2 separate regions of the Homo sapiens genome follow, and region 2 is linked to region 1. Evidence: fine-mapped expression QTL. Tissue or cell type: lung. Region 1 holds a variant in brackets; the other region holds the start of a gene. All regions are shown on one strand. Distances are between the middles of the regions.

Region 1 (8,105 bases):
AAAAAAATTTTAAGAAGAGGTCTTCCACCAAAAATGCCCGCCATCACCTCCCCAGCATGTCCAAGAGGGCTGTACTCACGCTCTGCGATCTGCAGCACTGGGTATCCCAGATAGAAACTGAACTCCACCACACTCAAGTTTCTGAGCAGCTCGCTCACTTCCGACCCATTCAAAAATCCCTGTGTGCTTTTAACCGCAAAGATGATATTCACCGGGCCCCGCCGAGGAGTCACCCTTGAGGAACTGATGGTGATATTCAAGATCTGAAAGAATAAAGTCAGAATAAGCTTCTATAATAAAACATTCTGCTGAAAGCTTAACCATGATTTCTCTCTCACAGGTCCTCTCACCGATTTTTTTAAAGGAGGTAAAGTTTTTAAAGGAAACGTAACTGGCTTTCTAACCTGGTTCCCTTTTGTAAGAGTTTAACTGCTCAGTTTATGGAAAATGTTTCTTACATTAAGTGATGAACTGAGCACATGTACAGCTCCTCCCACCCCAAATGCCACTGAAATAACAATAAGCTGAACACAGGGGAATAAATCCACAACAGCACTGAGAATGGAAGAAAACTAGAGATTCCGTCAAACCTCTGGGGGATGAAGAAAGGATGGGATTGGATTGATATAAACCAGAACAGAGAAAGCCAGAATCCAAAACATACACAAGCATGGGCTGCAGCAGAGCCAAGGGCCACGCTCTCCAAGAGGACCAGGAGGGGCTCTGTGGCAGAGATCAGCAGGAATGAGACCAAGAGCAGGCTACACAGTGGTAATCAGTATAATTAATTACAAGGCTGTGCCAAAGAGCTGAGTGTATTGCCTTCCTCCTCCGTCCTTCCTAACTGCCACACCCAGGCCAACAGAGGTGCTAGCAGCAGCCAGGCCCTCACCCAGAACAAGACTGCCTCCTGAGGAAAACAAACTCCTGCCTAAGAGGACTATGGTGGGTCTGGGCCCTAACCAAGAAGGTGGGCAGAGGCTAAGATAACTCCTGTGCACACCGAAGAAGGAAAGAAAATGAATGAAAACGCAGCTAGCTCTGCCCTGAGACACACACTAAAGTGCCCCATCCCCTAGGAAGAACCTCTTTATCTAGATGCTGGAAGGAGGGTGTTCCCTGTCTGCTTGTCTCTGACCACACACTGCACCCAGAGAGAAGCCCACGCTGACATATTCTGCCCCAGACCCAGCGCTCCGACGAATTTTCCCACCAGGAGATGGAGCTGACGTAGAAAGAGATCCCCACAGCTCAAGGGGAAAGCTGTGCCAGCTACTAAAATGAACAACTTGGTTCTTCATTCCTAACAACAAACCAACAGTCTCCAGATTTACAGAAACTAACAGCACGAAAGCAAAGCACCGAGATCAACATGCAGAGCAAGGACTGCAGAGAAAACAGGAATGACTTAGGAAACAGAAGACGCATTTTAACAATTCTAATTAACGTCCTCAGAGACTTTTAAGGTGACACTGCATCATCGCAGGAAAGCCTACAATGAAAATGGAGCAAAGAACAATGAACAAAAAGCTTAAAAATTCAGTAGAGGGATTGCATAACATAATGGACACAGCTAAGGACTAAATTCATGACTTGGAGGACGACATTTAGTAAATCTGTAAAAACAGAGAATAAAGAGATGGAAAATATGAGGAAAAAATAAGAAACATGGAAAGTGGATCCAGGAGCACCAAAATCTATTTTAACATCCATTTTGGAAAGAGAGAGGAAAGAATGTAGAGGGAAAAAAATCAAAGAAACATAAAAACATCAGCAGTTTCCATATGATACGTACAACACCCGTTCTTAGTAGCTATATGGAAACAACAGTATGGGTAGGCATTCCCCCATTGGATATTTAGGTTGATACCATTCCTTTCTAGGTAATTCTTGAATTTCCTGAATATGGTCATGTTTCTTCAGCTCACCATATCTGAGCTCCCTGGGTATCAGCTACTCTGCAACCCTCAAAGATGCTCAGCCTGTGCACGCTATGCCGACCTTACGCCACAGGAATAGATCAATCCCGACTCACATAAACTGGGTTTCCGCCACTGGAGGGAATAAGAGTTAAGCACATCTTAAACAATGTGGAACAATTTCCCCTTCAAGGGCTAAAGCCTTCTGCTCTGCATTCAGTGATATTCTCACCTGCACCGTGAGGTTATACGTTCCCTGGTGGTGTTTTCTCACTTCAAAGAGAGCTGTCATTAGGCCTTTCTCAATGCGCTGGGTGAAGTTGCAGAAGCCAGTATCCACACTCGGAGGCACAAACTGAAGTACTGAAAAGAAAAGCAATCAAAGTCCCATAAATGAGGTGTTTGTGCTTCTGAAGTATTAAGGAATCAAGAGAGAGAAACATCGTATCTAAATCAACCAATTCATCCATAGTATGGGATTAAGTACTGTGATGTAACATTTCTACGTATTTTCTCACGGAAATGTAAAAGGTAACTTTGCAGTAAATGAAGACATGCAATGTGACGGTGACTGGTATCATTTTAAAATGAAAAATATCTAAGATAAGAATTTGAGTATCAAAAGACACAATGGATGGAAACATTTCAAACATATATAAATTCATTGTAGATGAATTCTTGAATATTTATGGGTGAAATGACATGATACCTGGCATTGCTTGAAAACACTCTAGTGTCCACAAAAACGTTCACAGGGGATAGATGAAACAAAATTGGTGATGTTGATAAATTTTTTTTAAGCTTAACCATGGGTATATGTAGACTTAGTACTCTCTCTACTTTTGTAAATGTTTGAACATGTCCACAATGAAAAGTTAAATATGATATTTAGAAATTACTGTTAACAGCCAGGTACAGCGGCTCACGCCTGTAATTCCAGCACTTTGGGAGGCTGAGGCGGGCAGATCATTTGAGATCAGGAGTTCGAAACCAGCCTGGCCAACATGGTGAAACCCCATCTCTACTAAAAATACAAAAATTAGCCGGACATGGTGGTGGGTGCTTGTAATCCCAGCCACTCAGGAGGCTCAGGCAAGAGAATTGCCTGAGCCCGGGAGGCAAAGGTTGCAGTGAGCAGAGATCGCGCCATTGCACTCTAGCCTGAGCAACAAAGCAAGACTCCAGCTCCAAAAAAAAGAAAAGAAAAGAAATCACTGTTAACTTCATATACATGTTTAAAGTCTTTATCTTTTAGAGGCTATATAGGCTGAAATATGTGTGGGCGAGATGATACGATGCCTGAGATTTACTTTAAAATAGTACAAGAGGAGGGGAAGTAGATAGTAGATGGGGGTGTGGCTATAACAAGACTGGCTAGGAACGGAAAAGTGGTTGAAGACATATGAGTACACAGTGGTCTGTTAAACTATTCTACGTACTTTTGTACATGCTTGAAATTTCCCATAATTATAAACACTTTTAAAAGTTAAATAATAAGGTCAGGTGTGGTAGCTCACACCCGTAATCCCAGCACTTTGGGAGGCCAAGACAGGAGGATCGCTTGAGCCCAGGAGTTCAACACCAGTCTGGGCAACTTAGGAAGACCCCATCTCTACAAAACATAATGTTTCTTAAATTCTTTTTTTTTTTTTTTTTTGAGATAGGGTCTCACTCTGTTGTCCAAGCTGGAGTGCAGTGGCACGATCTCGTCTCACTGCAGTCTCCACCTCCTGGGTTCAAGTGATTCTCCTGCCCCAGCCACCCAAGTCACTGGGATTACAGGCGTATGCCACCATATCTGGCTAATTTTTGTATTTTTAGTAGAGATGAGGTTTCGCCATGTTGCCCAGGCTCATCTCAAACTCCAGAGCTCAAGTGATCTGCTCGCCTCAGCCTCTCAAAGTGCTGAGATTACAGGCATGAGCCATCGCACTTGGTCTAATTTTTTTTTTTTTTTTTTTTGTAGAGACAGGGTTTCATCATGCTGCCCTGGCTGGTCTCAAACTCATGAACTCAAGTGATCCATCTGCCTCAGCCTCCCAACCTCCTCTGCCTCAGCTCCCACCTGGTGGGACTACAGGTGTGAGCCACCATACCTGGCCTAAAAAAAAATTAAAAAAAAAATTAGCCACGCATGGTGGTATACACTTTTAGTCCTAACTACTCAGGAGGCTGAGGCAGGAGGATTGTTCGAGCTCAGGGGTTCAAGGCTACAGTGAGCTATAATCACACCACTGCATTCCAGCCTGGGCAACAGACTGAGATCCTGTCTCTAAAAATCATCATCATAATAATAAATTCTAAAAATGATTTCCAATATTTTAGAAAGATAAAAAAAAAATGAAATTCTTTTTACAAATAAAAACAACTATGCTGAGCTGTCTCACCTGTTTGAACTTGGAACCTGGACTCTGGCACAAGGAAAGAAGGTTTCACAGACAGGATTAAAGGAGTCTGGTCACGGACAAGCTTACTGTTTATAAGCACATTTATGAC[G/A]GATATTGCCGTGTAAACGAAAGGACCGGATGTTACCAGAAAAGTGAAGTCAGTAAATAGTTCGTAAACCTAGGGAAATAAGAAATACAAAGACAATTCAAACTTAAAGGAAGTTGTGTTACACAGAAAAATAAAAAATTATAAACTAAAAAAACTGGTAGTTTTGAATGAAGGGGTAGTGCATCACGGATAATCAAAATTTTATTTTAGTTACTGCTTTTACTCTCTGCCAACCTTTGCAAAAACAACACAAAATTATAAGAGCAGCAAGAAAGAACAGTCAGAAATATGAACTGAATAATGAGTTATAGGGCATTCAAGCTGTTTGTTGTATTTAAAACACATAGACAAGAGTACTTATCCTATTGAGCAGCACTGTCCAAAATAAATATGCAATTTAAAAATTTCTAGTGGCCACATTAAAAAACATAAGAACAGGTGAAATTAATTTTAAATACATTTTATTTAATATATCTAAAATATCATTTCAACATGAAGTCAATACAAAACACTATTAATGAGATATTCTACCCTCCTTTTTTCACTGCATTTTTCAAGTCTGGTATGTATTTTCCACCCACAGCCCATCTCCGTTTGGACGAGCCCCATTTCACTGCTGTATCGCCATGCGTGGGGCGCGGTTCTGGTTCCGGATGGCTCTGCTCTAGATGGACTGTGGCTTTCTAGGATCATTCAGTCTAAAAGATTTGGATCTCCATCTCTATCCTACCAAATGTCCAGAAAGATGCACCTGTACTCACTCTAACGTCTAATTTAAACACGAATCCAAGTCCTTTCATGTGAATCAAGGGAAGTAAAATCACGAAGGCTGTCACCCCAGACTGCTGCCTCTGGTCTGAGAGCCCTTTGTTCCAACTCTGCCAACACATCCCCTAAAGGACTAACCCTGACCTCATGTGGGATCAGGAAAGACCTCCTCGATGCAGTGACGGTGGAATGGAGATCCAGAGGATGAGCAGGACTTAACCAGGAACAGACAAGAGGGAAGAGATGAAATAGAATGATTCCATGGCCATAATCACCTGCCTCTAACCTGGGGCTCTCACATCAGCCCCAGTCTCACCAGACATCACACTCCTGAGCCACCAGGACTCACCTTCAGTTCCACTGCACGGTTGAAGTGAATCCTCAGTACTTCTTTGATTGCTGTAATGATGTACTCCTGCACAGCTCTTCTGGCCAGCACTGCAAATGAAAGCAAACCACCAAATGCCTTTTCATGTCATTATGAATAACAAACACACCAGACTTCTGGACCCCAGCACTGTGCCAAAATGTGTTAGCAGTTCCAAAAGTCTTTTTGTAAAATAAAGGCCAGACCAAGACAGAACAGGGGTTAAGGATCTAGTTGCTGCTAACTACCTGGAGAAGAACAGCAGTGGGGACCTTGAAGACACCAGGTCAACTCTGCATAGCATCAGCTCAACACACTAAGAAAACCCTCTTTGCCCCAGATAGGTTAGATCAGGAATCAGCAGTGATGACCCAGCCAGGGGACAAGGAGCTTCCAGTTCTCATTTTCACCTGGACAAATTCCAGGCTGTCTCTCGGCTATGTCCCTGACAACAAAACATGAGGCTTTAAAAGCTCTCAGAAGGAACATTTTTCTTTTCTTTTCTTTTTGAGACCCGCTCTGTCGCCCAGGCTGGAGTGCAGTGGCGCAATCTTGGCTCACTGTAAGCTCCGCCTCCCGGGTTCACACCATTCTCCTGCCTCAGCCTCCTGAGTAGCTGGGACTACAGGTGCCTGCCACCACGCCCGGCTAATTTTTTGTACTTTTAGTAGAGATGGGGTTTCACCGTGTTAGCCAGGATGGTCTTGATCTCCTAACCTTGTGACCCACCTGCCTCAGCCTCCCAAAGTGCTGGGATTATAGACGTGAGCCACCGCACCCAGCCAGAAGTAACATTTTTAAAGGCCTTAAGATGTTACTCAACAAAACCAGATGACATCTTCCTCTGTAAAATGAGGTCTCCTACCCCAATGTTTCAAGGCAAAGGTGAAGAGTTTTTACCACTAATCATGGGGAAAAACGAATTCCACAATTCCCACATATTAAAATTTTATGTAGGAAATAAAATATTTCTCATAACCAAAGCCTAGTTCTGTTTGACTGTTTTCATATTTTAAAAGTTCCATTTAAAAATCTATACTAATAAGTAAGCCTGTCTCTCAGTATTTAGTAAGCGTGTTCTTCTTTTTCCTATTTTTTCTCTCCTCTTCCATCAACTTCCCATAATGCAGAATTAGAATACACTTGATATTATCATTGTTTTCCATTTCCTGATTTTAATTTTTTAAAGTAGAGACAGAATCACTCTGTATTCTTCATTCTTTAAAACAAAAATGTTTAATTTATATTTGATTGTTTTTTTCTAGGAATCAGTGATCTGAAGTTTTTTTAAAGGTGAGTGGAGGCTCCTTTATTAGTTTATGAGACCACTGGAACAAATCCACAGCCCCAACCACCTTGCTGAGTCACACCAGCAGCCAACTCCGCATGGCCCACATAGGCTCCAAGTGGGTTGGACTATGCTATAGATCTGAAAGGGAAAGATAAAATGAGGAGGAAGGAAAGGGGGAAGAGTGGCAAGAAGGAAAGATGCCTTATTTAAGGAAGGAAATGAAGAGGGAGGGAGAAATGAGGAAAGAGGGAGACAGGAGGGAGGAGGGAGACAGGAAGGAGGAGGGGACAGAAAAGGAGGAGGGAGGGAGAGGAGGGAGAAGGAAAGAAGGAAGGAAGGAAGAAAGGAAGGGAGGAAGGCAGGGAGGGAGGGAGGGAGGCAAGAGCTAAACTCGGGGGAAACAGAGGCAGAATGGGAAGTCAGAAACAGAAAATCCCTAAATAGGAAAGCAGGAAGAACACATTGTAAGCAGCCCCACACAGCTAAAGACATCATCGGTCTAAATGCCACTCTGCAAAGTCCCCACAGCCACCACCATGACCTCCACTTTCTCCAGAGAATCTGAGAAAGCTATAAAACTGCAACATTAGGATATGAGGACACCAGTCTTTGGGAAAAGGGATCATCAGCAAACAAATATCTTACAGATCTTTTCCTAAATGAATGTTTCCCAGAGCTAAGAGAAGAGAGGTGACAGAGACTTCCAGAGGCAGCACAGGGTCAGAAAGGCCCTGGGTGGAAGCGCGGCTCATGCCTCCCAGGGCGCGTGCAGGCAAGTGCTTCCTCCGCCATCGCAGACCCCCAGCACCCAGAGTGGCTCCGCTTCATCATCACAGAGCACACAGGAAGAATCCTTTCAGGGGTACGCGGAGTCACCTCAACCCCCTCACCACACTCTCTCACTAACGGACAACCATGAAAAGGACAGCAAGGTCCAACCTAAGCAAAGGTAAGAAATGAGCCGATACTTCCTCTGGGTCAAAGGTATCACCAGGAACAAAAATGGCACTTATCTCCGCTAAAAGACACAATTTAACAGCATGGACACTCACACACAACTCTGGACATTTACAAAAACTGTTCAAGTGTACTTAACAATGGCTGAATTTTACTCCAAAGAGCTGTTAAAAATACATGGATACCTAATACAGGCACCAAATGTCATTAAGTGTACACCACATATGAAAGTTAAATCCAGCTATGAGGACTCCTAAAGAAGCTTTCAGTGACTCTTTAAATAAGCTGCTTACAACTGACCACTTTG
Region 2 (8,105 bases), 71 kb after region 1:
TCAAAAATTGCTTCATTCAAAAATCACATACTGAGTACCTACTAGGGGCCCAGCATTTTGAACAAAAGATGCAGAAATCCAGCCTGGTGGGCCTTACATTTTAATCACACTCTAATACCCCTTCCACAAATGTATACTCAAGAAAACACACACACACACACACACACACACACACGGAAAGAAACATGCACAAAGCCTTTTTTTTTTGAGACGGAGTCTTGCTCTGTCGTCCAGGCTGGAGTACAATGGCGCCATCTCGGCTCACTGCAACCTCTGCCTCCCTGGTTCGAGCAATTCTCCTGCCTCAGCCTCCCAAGTAGCTGGGATTACAGGCACATGCCACCACACCCAGCTAATCTCTGTATTTTTAGTAGAGACGGGGTTTCACCATGTTGGCCAGGATGGTCTCAAACTCCTGACCTCAGGTGATCCGCCCACCTCGGCTTCCCAAAGTGCTGGGATTACAGGCGTGAGCCAGCGCGCATGGCCAGCAGAGCCTTCTCTATGTAGCTATTCATCAGCATTACTTACAGCAACCCAAAAAATGGAAATAAAAGAATAAATCATTAGGATAGAAAATAGTTTTCAAATAAGACTTAATGAATGGAAAAATGCTTAAGTTAAATGTAGAGTGGAAATGGTAGTAAATACAATTGTGCATATAATTCTTTTTTTAATGTTAACAACAAAAAAACGATAAAATTACTTAGTGTTACCTACAGGCTGTGAGATTATGGGTGACTGGTTTCTGTACCTTTCAGTAATTTCCAAATTCCCTACAAAGCAATCTATTTCATAATAACTATTACTTTTTAAAAACTTATCTCTGAATAAGGTGAAGAAACTGGGCATGATTCTTTGTTTTTATACTGTGGATGGCTAATCACTTAAGAGCAATGCATTCAAAAGTAAGTCCAAAGCATTACAAGTTGTTTCCACAACAGTCAATGGTTAAGACCAAACTTGTAAATTTTTTTTTTAAAAAAACACACTCAAAATGCTGAATGAAATACAAATAGACAAGAAATCGATTTAACATAGAGATTTAACCAAAGACTGTAATAAGGGGACCACCTGGAAGGTGGACTCTATTGAACAAAAGTTAACAAGAGAAGCCAGCTGAAGGAGGAGATAGCTTTCAGACAGCCACGGAAGGGAATGCTGCCTCACATAGGAAGTCCAAAACAGGTCTAAGCCATGCCATTTTCTGACTACCACTGCTTATTCCTTAGAAAGAGAACCAACCACCACAGCAGTGTTCAGCAAAGCTCTCCTACATTCCAAATCTCCTGGTGAAAATACCACACTCAGGACTGGGAGGGCAGCCCAAGCAACTGCAACGCACCCTCTTCCCAGGATCAACAGCACCGCCCAGGCACCCTACACACACCCTAGCTACATCAGGAAGCCACCCTCCACCAAGATCGTTCCTCACAGTCTTCAAGTAGATGGGGTCACCTCCAGCAGGTCATCCATAAGGAATCCTGCCTTTCCTGTCCGGGAATGGTCTGTGCAAGGGTTTGTACTTCCTTCACTGCTCTGTGTTTCCAGCTGGATCCTGGAGCACAGGGGCTGTGCCCTCCACTTCTTAGTTCCTAGTCTATGAGCCTGGCAGCGGCTGAAGCCAATATACAAACCAGTGAAAGGATGAAGTCTCTTTCCATGATGTCAGGTCTAGAATGGAAATATTATTAATTTCATGTCTCCAGGTTGAATATTTGTATTGGGGGTAGAGGGGAAGCAGGAAAGGACTTCCAAAGAAGAGAAGGTTAGGGATGGGCAGTGCAAACAGCTTCACTATTTATTTTAAAGTTACCAGAAGCACTTATATTCTCCACAACCTCTGCAGTACACCCAGATGGCCACATTCATATGGGGAAGCCATCAGGCACAGAAAGGAAGCATGTCATAGAGTCTGAAGCCAAACCAACCTAAACTCAAAGCCTTAGTTTCCTCATCTGTAAAATGGGGATAACTATGCCTAACTCACAACGTGATTGGATCGTGTATATAAAATTCAACATCTGGCACACAAAAAGCACTCAGGAGATGGAAACCATTTATCTGCTGTGTCTTATGACAGATGAATCCACGAGTATCAGATGGGCTCTCTTTGTTGACTAAAGCCAAGAGACCCTTGACAATGATCTCTTCTCCTCTGGACACACAGGGCTGGAACTCGCAGGAGCAGGACTGAGACGGGAGGTCCTAGGTTAGAGTAAGGTGTTTGCACTAGCTGTATACTGCCTAAAAGAGACTCATTCTGTCACCCCAACCCTGGTTCCACCCAGCTATGGGAAATCTCTGCAGAGGCTTCAGGTGTGGATATGTCTATGGGCCAAGAGCGGGGGTGGGAGGCAGGGAAAGTGATGACTGTGACCTTGAGCAAGGCACTTCTCTGCCTTAGTTTCCTCTTTGGTAAGCAGAGTGGACCTGTTCCATGATCCCTGAAGTCCTCCCTGTGCTTCTATTGTACCATCCCCTCTAGGGCACTGGTTATAATTCTCACAGGTCCAAGGGACACCTTCAAATGTGTTCCAATTCCTCCCAGCCACTGAGTAGCCCTTTGGCCCTGCTCCCACGAGAAAGGAGGATTCGGAGCAGCGTTCACGGCTTTCTGGTTTTTGTTCTGTGTGCAGCAGCTCTCCACCCCTAGCTGCTCCTTCCACCTTTCCTTTTCCGCCTCAAAGTGGTCAAGTGCCTGTGCAGGGGCAATCGCTGGCCTGCAGTGTCAGCTCAGAGACGGTTTCCAGACCATCCTGTGTACAGGCTCAGGGTGGACAAATAAACATTTTGGAGAAGCAATAGGAATTAAATCATTTCTTCCACAACAAAACCCTTATGCTTCTTCATAAATCATGCCTCTTCATTCCATACTGATGAACAGTCACTAAATTGCATCTGTTATAAAAACAGCCCTTACTCCTTTCATGCCCAGACACTTAAGAATCAAAATATTTTCACACTCCATTGTACTAATAATGCCTTGCAGAAGTAATACCAATAGCTATTTCCCTGGAAAGATCCGTGGCCAGGGCGCTTTCCAAGAGGTTTTCTTTGAATGTTCTTTGTGTCCTGCTGTACGGGGGGACACGGCCGGCCTGCCCGCATCTGGGGGACGCTGGGCTTGTCCCGGTAATGCAATACTCTTTTAAAGCACACCTCGAATCCACCTCTTCGCCCCGACAATAAAGTATCTCAAAACATTCGATATGCCACATCATACAGCCTTGACAAAAAAGCACGCCGGTGCCTGCATTCTGCAGGAAAAACCAGGCACATTCTGAGATGAAGCCACCAGACCCGCTTCGGGTTCCATGGACAAGAGAACAGCTTTGCAGACCCCTTAGCAAGACCGGCCAGAAGCCGCTCGCTTGTTCGTTTTAATTATTTATTTCCCCCGTGCCTTTATTTGTTGGGCCCCAGAAGAATGGCAAAGCATCTTCCAGAAAGGACGGCGAGGGAGCTGGAGAATAAAAGAGGATGGGCGGGGAAAGCCGGGGTTTTGAAAACAGCAGCGATAAAGGCAGGCGGGGTCGCGGCCGCGTTCCGAGGGTCTCGGCGGAGCTTACCTGGGGCGCACGAGGCCGGCCGGGCCAGCAGCAGCAGCCAGAGGCCAGGAAGCAGCAGCCCCGGGCGGCGGCGGCGGGCGCAGCGGGCGGAAGGCCGTCGGCCGCTCGGCCCCGGGGCCAGCGCGACCCCGGCGCGGGGCTTCCCCTCCATGGCCGCGCCTCGGCGTCGGCGCCGCGCCCCCGGCATTCCCGGCCGGCGCCCCGGCCCGGCCTCGCGGCTCAGCGGCTCTCGGGTCCGGGAGGGGCGGCCGCTGCGGCTGCGGCTGGGACGGGGCGCCGCGCACCGGCGCGGAGGGAGGCCGGAGAGGCGGGGGCGGGCCGGGCCGGAACCGAGGACAGGGGCGCCAGCCGCACGCCCGCCTTGCCGCTCCGCCCCCTTCGGAGCCTCGGAGCCGCTGCCCGGCAACGCGCGGGCCCGGGCGCGGGACGGCGAGCACCCCCTCCCGGCCGGCCGGACGCCTGCCTGCCTGCCTGCCTGCCTGCCTGCGGGGCGGCCGGGGCAGCGTGCGCGGGGCTCGGCGCGGCAGAGGCGGCAAGGGCGGCGAGGCGGCGCGGCCCAGCCCTCCCCCAGGACCCGCCTTCCGGAGGGAGCGCGAGGGGCTCGGGGGGCCTGGGCCGGGCGGTGCCGCCCCGACCCGCACCCAACCCCGGGTCCCGCCGCGCGTTCCCCGGGGCGCCCGGATCAGGGTAGGCCGGCAAGCCGGGGGAGGGGTCCTCTCGCCTCCCTCGCTCCTCCTCTCCCGCCGACTCCTTGCGGGCAGCAGGTGTGTGGGGCGCCGCGCTCTCAGGACAGCCTCGGGGCCGCGGAGGGGACAAAGCCAGACAAAGTCGGGCTCCTGCGCTAGAGCTCAGCGTGCAAGGCAGGGGCGAGCAGAGCGCACGCAGCTCTCCCCCGCCTTCCTGCCTTAAGAAGGTGCGGCCACCTCTGCGGGTCTTCGGGAAGCGACCCTGCGCTCAGGGCCTGGGAGGCCCGCGGGACCCTGCACTTAGCAGGCCTTGAGCAGGCGGCTGCTGAAGCGAATGGGCGTGGAGCTGGGGAGACCCGCAAGGCCAGGCCGTTTTAGGGAAAGTGGCGCTCCTGAGAGGTGGAGAGAATGCCCAGAGAGCGTTTGAGGGTTGGAGTCCGCGGGGGGAATGAGGAACGGGAAGAAGGGAGTTGACATCTGTCAAGTACCTACTGTGTGCCAGGCACGTCACTCTGAAGACGCCCCGTGGCTTCAGGGTCTAGGGAGGAGGAATTGGAAGTTTTGAATCGTTGCATCCCACTGGCATTGTTGCATCAAGCAGATATTAACGGTGTGTGTGGGGGACACTATCTCGTGCAGAAAAACTATGGCAGACAGCGGAAAAGGTGAATCATTACACTGGCAGAGGGATCCTCGCGGCTATTCAGTCGGGTTCCCCTGCCAGGCCCAGCCCTTGAAGGGGCTGCCCAGCCTTGCAGCTCCAACTCTTCTGGACTCCTTGCCCTTGGCGAATAGTTCTTCCTAAGAATAGGACAGGGGCACTCTTCTGTAGGTACACACCTGGTCCTTACAGGTGGGTACTTGAAACCTGGTAGTTTCAAGGAAAATGAGAATAAAGGTTAAAAAAAGCTTTTGTTGATGTTCCTGGTGTTTTTACACGTTATTGTAACCCCCCATCATACAGCCCCTATGTTTATTACAGTAACTGCTCCTGTCTCCCAAAGAGGGTTCTGCGTGCACACCCAGGTAAGTACCTAAGAGAAACTGCCCAGATATGTCTGGTCCCAGGACACCATGGCCATAGATCTGGGACCTCTTATTCACACACTTATCTTTATTCTCTGAACTCTCTATAACAGCACATTTGACCACAAACCACTGCCTTCGTGCAACTCTTGAATGGTCTTGTCCTGTTGTGTTGTTTTATCTTTTATGAATTTATGCTTTGCACACACAGCCCCCACCCCACCTCCAATAAATTAATATGAAATTCAAATATGGTGCTATCCTGCTTAGGATTTCTCATAGCCCCAGTAAGCCCTCAGTAGACAATCGTTGGTTTGAGCCAGAGCATGCATTCCGCCCGTGAAGAGGTTCCATCTTCAGATTTGGCCTCAGCCTCCTGCAAGCTGCCATCTACACTAGACCCGTTGGTGTCAGAGAAAAAAGCCTCCCTCGGCCATGCGCGGTGGCTCACGCCTATAATCCCAGCACTTTGGGAGGCCAAGGCAGGCAGATCACCTGAGGTCAGGAGTTCAAGACCAGCCTGGCCAACATGGCAAACCCCGTCTCTAATAAAAACACAGAAAAATTTACCCAGGCATGGTGGCACGTGCTTGTAATCCCAGCTACTCAGGAGGCTGAGGCAGGAGGATCACTTGAACCCAGGAGGCGGAGGTTACAGTAAACCAAGATCACGCCACTGCACTCCAGCCTGGGTGCCACAGCAAGACTCCATCTCAAAAAAAAAAAAAAAAAAAAAAGGAAAAGAAAAAAGAAAGGAGTCTCCTTCTCCATTCTCTGCAAACTCAAAGACAATAGTGTTTGCCCTGCCATTAAGAGATTGATCAGCTGGAAGTAAAAATAAAAATTGGAACCCTGAGATACTAGAAATGACTCATGGACACCAAAGTGTCCGTGGAAAGTGAGGTCCCTAGGGTCCCTTAGTCTCCCAGCTCTGAAGGCATAAAACAAAATCTTACCTCTGTTAGGATTTAAGGCATTCTGCCTCCATGTCTGGGAAAATGTCTACCAGGCTCTGACAGTCCAGCTGGTAGGTGGTGTTACTCTGCAGACTCAGAGGGGATGAGTGGTCCTTGGAGGTAGGGGAGTGTGTGCAAATGTGTGTGTGTGTGTAAGATTTTAAAATCGATTTTAGAGATCATCTCATCCAATTCTCATAGATAAAGAAACAAGCCAGAGAGGTTAGTTTATTTCCATAAGGCTCAACTCCAACTGGAATTGTCGTCTCCAGTTAAACCACACACCCTCCAGGGGAGGGGGAAAATTAACCTGGGTCCTCGATAGGCTTACAATCTGGTTTGGAGACAGGGAGAGGTAGGCTCAGTACTATCCTTAGACCTAGACGAAGCGGGCCCCACTCTGGCCTTCTCAAACTGCACCTCTCTCCTCAGGACAGAGTCTGTGAAGCCCAGGAAGCACCCTCACCAGCAGCCCATCTTCCCATGCTCAGGTGCCCAGGACCCCAGAATCCTGCCCATTTCACCCCAGGCTCATCTTCAGGCCTATGTGGCCTCTTCCTCAAGTCCATTCTCCCAAGGCTGCACCAAGGGTGTGTCTGGTCCCACGGGGTAGTTGTTTGCTAGGGAGTGGCAAAACTTACGCAGGAGGCATCTCTAAAGATGCGCACATGAAACCTATAGGAATGAAGCAGAGGACCAGGGATGGGAAGAGAAGATCGGGCATGGCCCATATTCACATGGCAACCTGGCTGCGATGTTCTGCTCACAACTGCAGGAAGTCTGCGAATCCTGCCTGTGAACCAGCCTAACCATTCTGAAGACATACGTTTGTTAAGGTAGAACAGACATATTTAATAGTTTGCTTGCTTGGCATGTAACTTGCTGATGAAAATCTGGTCATCGATGTGAAATGGCCAAAATGGCCAAATGTGAAATGGGCTGCGTGAGCCCCTATTTGCACTCTTGACCTGGGCCCCTCAATTCTTAGGGTCTGGATAAGGATGGGACAGAGGGACTGAAGTTAGAGGATGGCTGGAAGTCGGTAGAGGGTAGTGTGAGAGTCCTAGAATAGGAATCAGGACAGCTGAGTTCTGCGTTCTGCTCTGTCACAGAAAAGTTTATGAACTTGAACAAAATGCTTCACCCTACTCTCAAACCTCAAATGTTCTTATCTGATGATGGGCTTCACATGCCTACCTTGCTTAGCTGTGGGTTCGGTTCTTAAGAGAATTATACAAAATAAGATGAATGTTCACAAAGGTCATTCATTAAATTCAATGAATATTTTTTGAGCATGTACCATATGCCAGGCAGTGCAGTGGGCACTGGAGGTATAACGGTGAACAAAACAAAGGCCCTTCCTCGTGGAACTTATGTTCTAGTGAGAGGAGACAGGCAATCAGTAAGTGAGCCTTCGGCTGATGACAACAATTTGCAGAATAACAAAGAGGGAAAAGGAGTGAGGGAAGGGTCAGTGTTACTGTGTTAAATAGAATAGTCAGGGATGATCACCCTACTAAGGTGACATTGGGCCATGGGGATAGCTGGGGAAGAGGGTGTCAGGCAGAGGGAACAACTGTGCAAAGTGGAGAAGTAGCCAGAATAAACATTCAAAAAATATTTACTGAGTCCCTACTAAGTAAGCGCCCCGTAGAGTCATGTGCTAAATGATCAGTAAGATTAATTAGGCCGGGCACAGTGGCTCACGTCTGTAATTCTAGCACTTTGGGAGGCTGAGGCAGGTGGATTGCTTGAGCCCAGGAGTTTGAGACCAGCCTGGGCGACATGGTGAGACTCCCATCTCTATGAAGAAATCCAAAACATTAGCTAGGCATGGTGGCGTGCACCTGTAGTCCCAGCCACCC

The links. PIP is the estimated chance that this variant, and not a neighbour inherited with it, causes the effect.
Region 2: it holds the start of KIAA1549, and the variant in region 1 is fine-mapped to the expression of KIAA1549 in lung (TOPMed, PIP above 0.99).

The regions. Positions count from the first base shown.
Region 1 is chr7:138,906,840-138,914,944 of GRCh38, forward strand. KIAA1549 reads right to left here. Exons shown (of 20, transcript NM_001164665.2): 3 at 5,533-5,621; 4 at 4,307-4,484; 5 at 2,152-2,282; 6 at 80-263. Among named protein-coding and RNA genes, the nearest start is that of KIAA1549, 70 kb to the right of the region's middle. The variant G/A (reference allele first, on the strand shown) is at 4,416.
Region 2 is chr7:138,977,511-138,985,615 of GRCh38, forward strand. It overlaps KIAA1549, which reads right to left and starts at 3,879. Exons shown (of 20, transcript NM_001164665.2): 1 at 3,573-3,879. The coding sequence starts at 3,759. RefSeq lists silencers at 2,493-2,787, 3,627-3,756, 3,797-4,176, 4,197-4,326 and enhancers at 2,798-3,684, 4,307-4,656.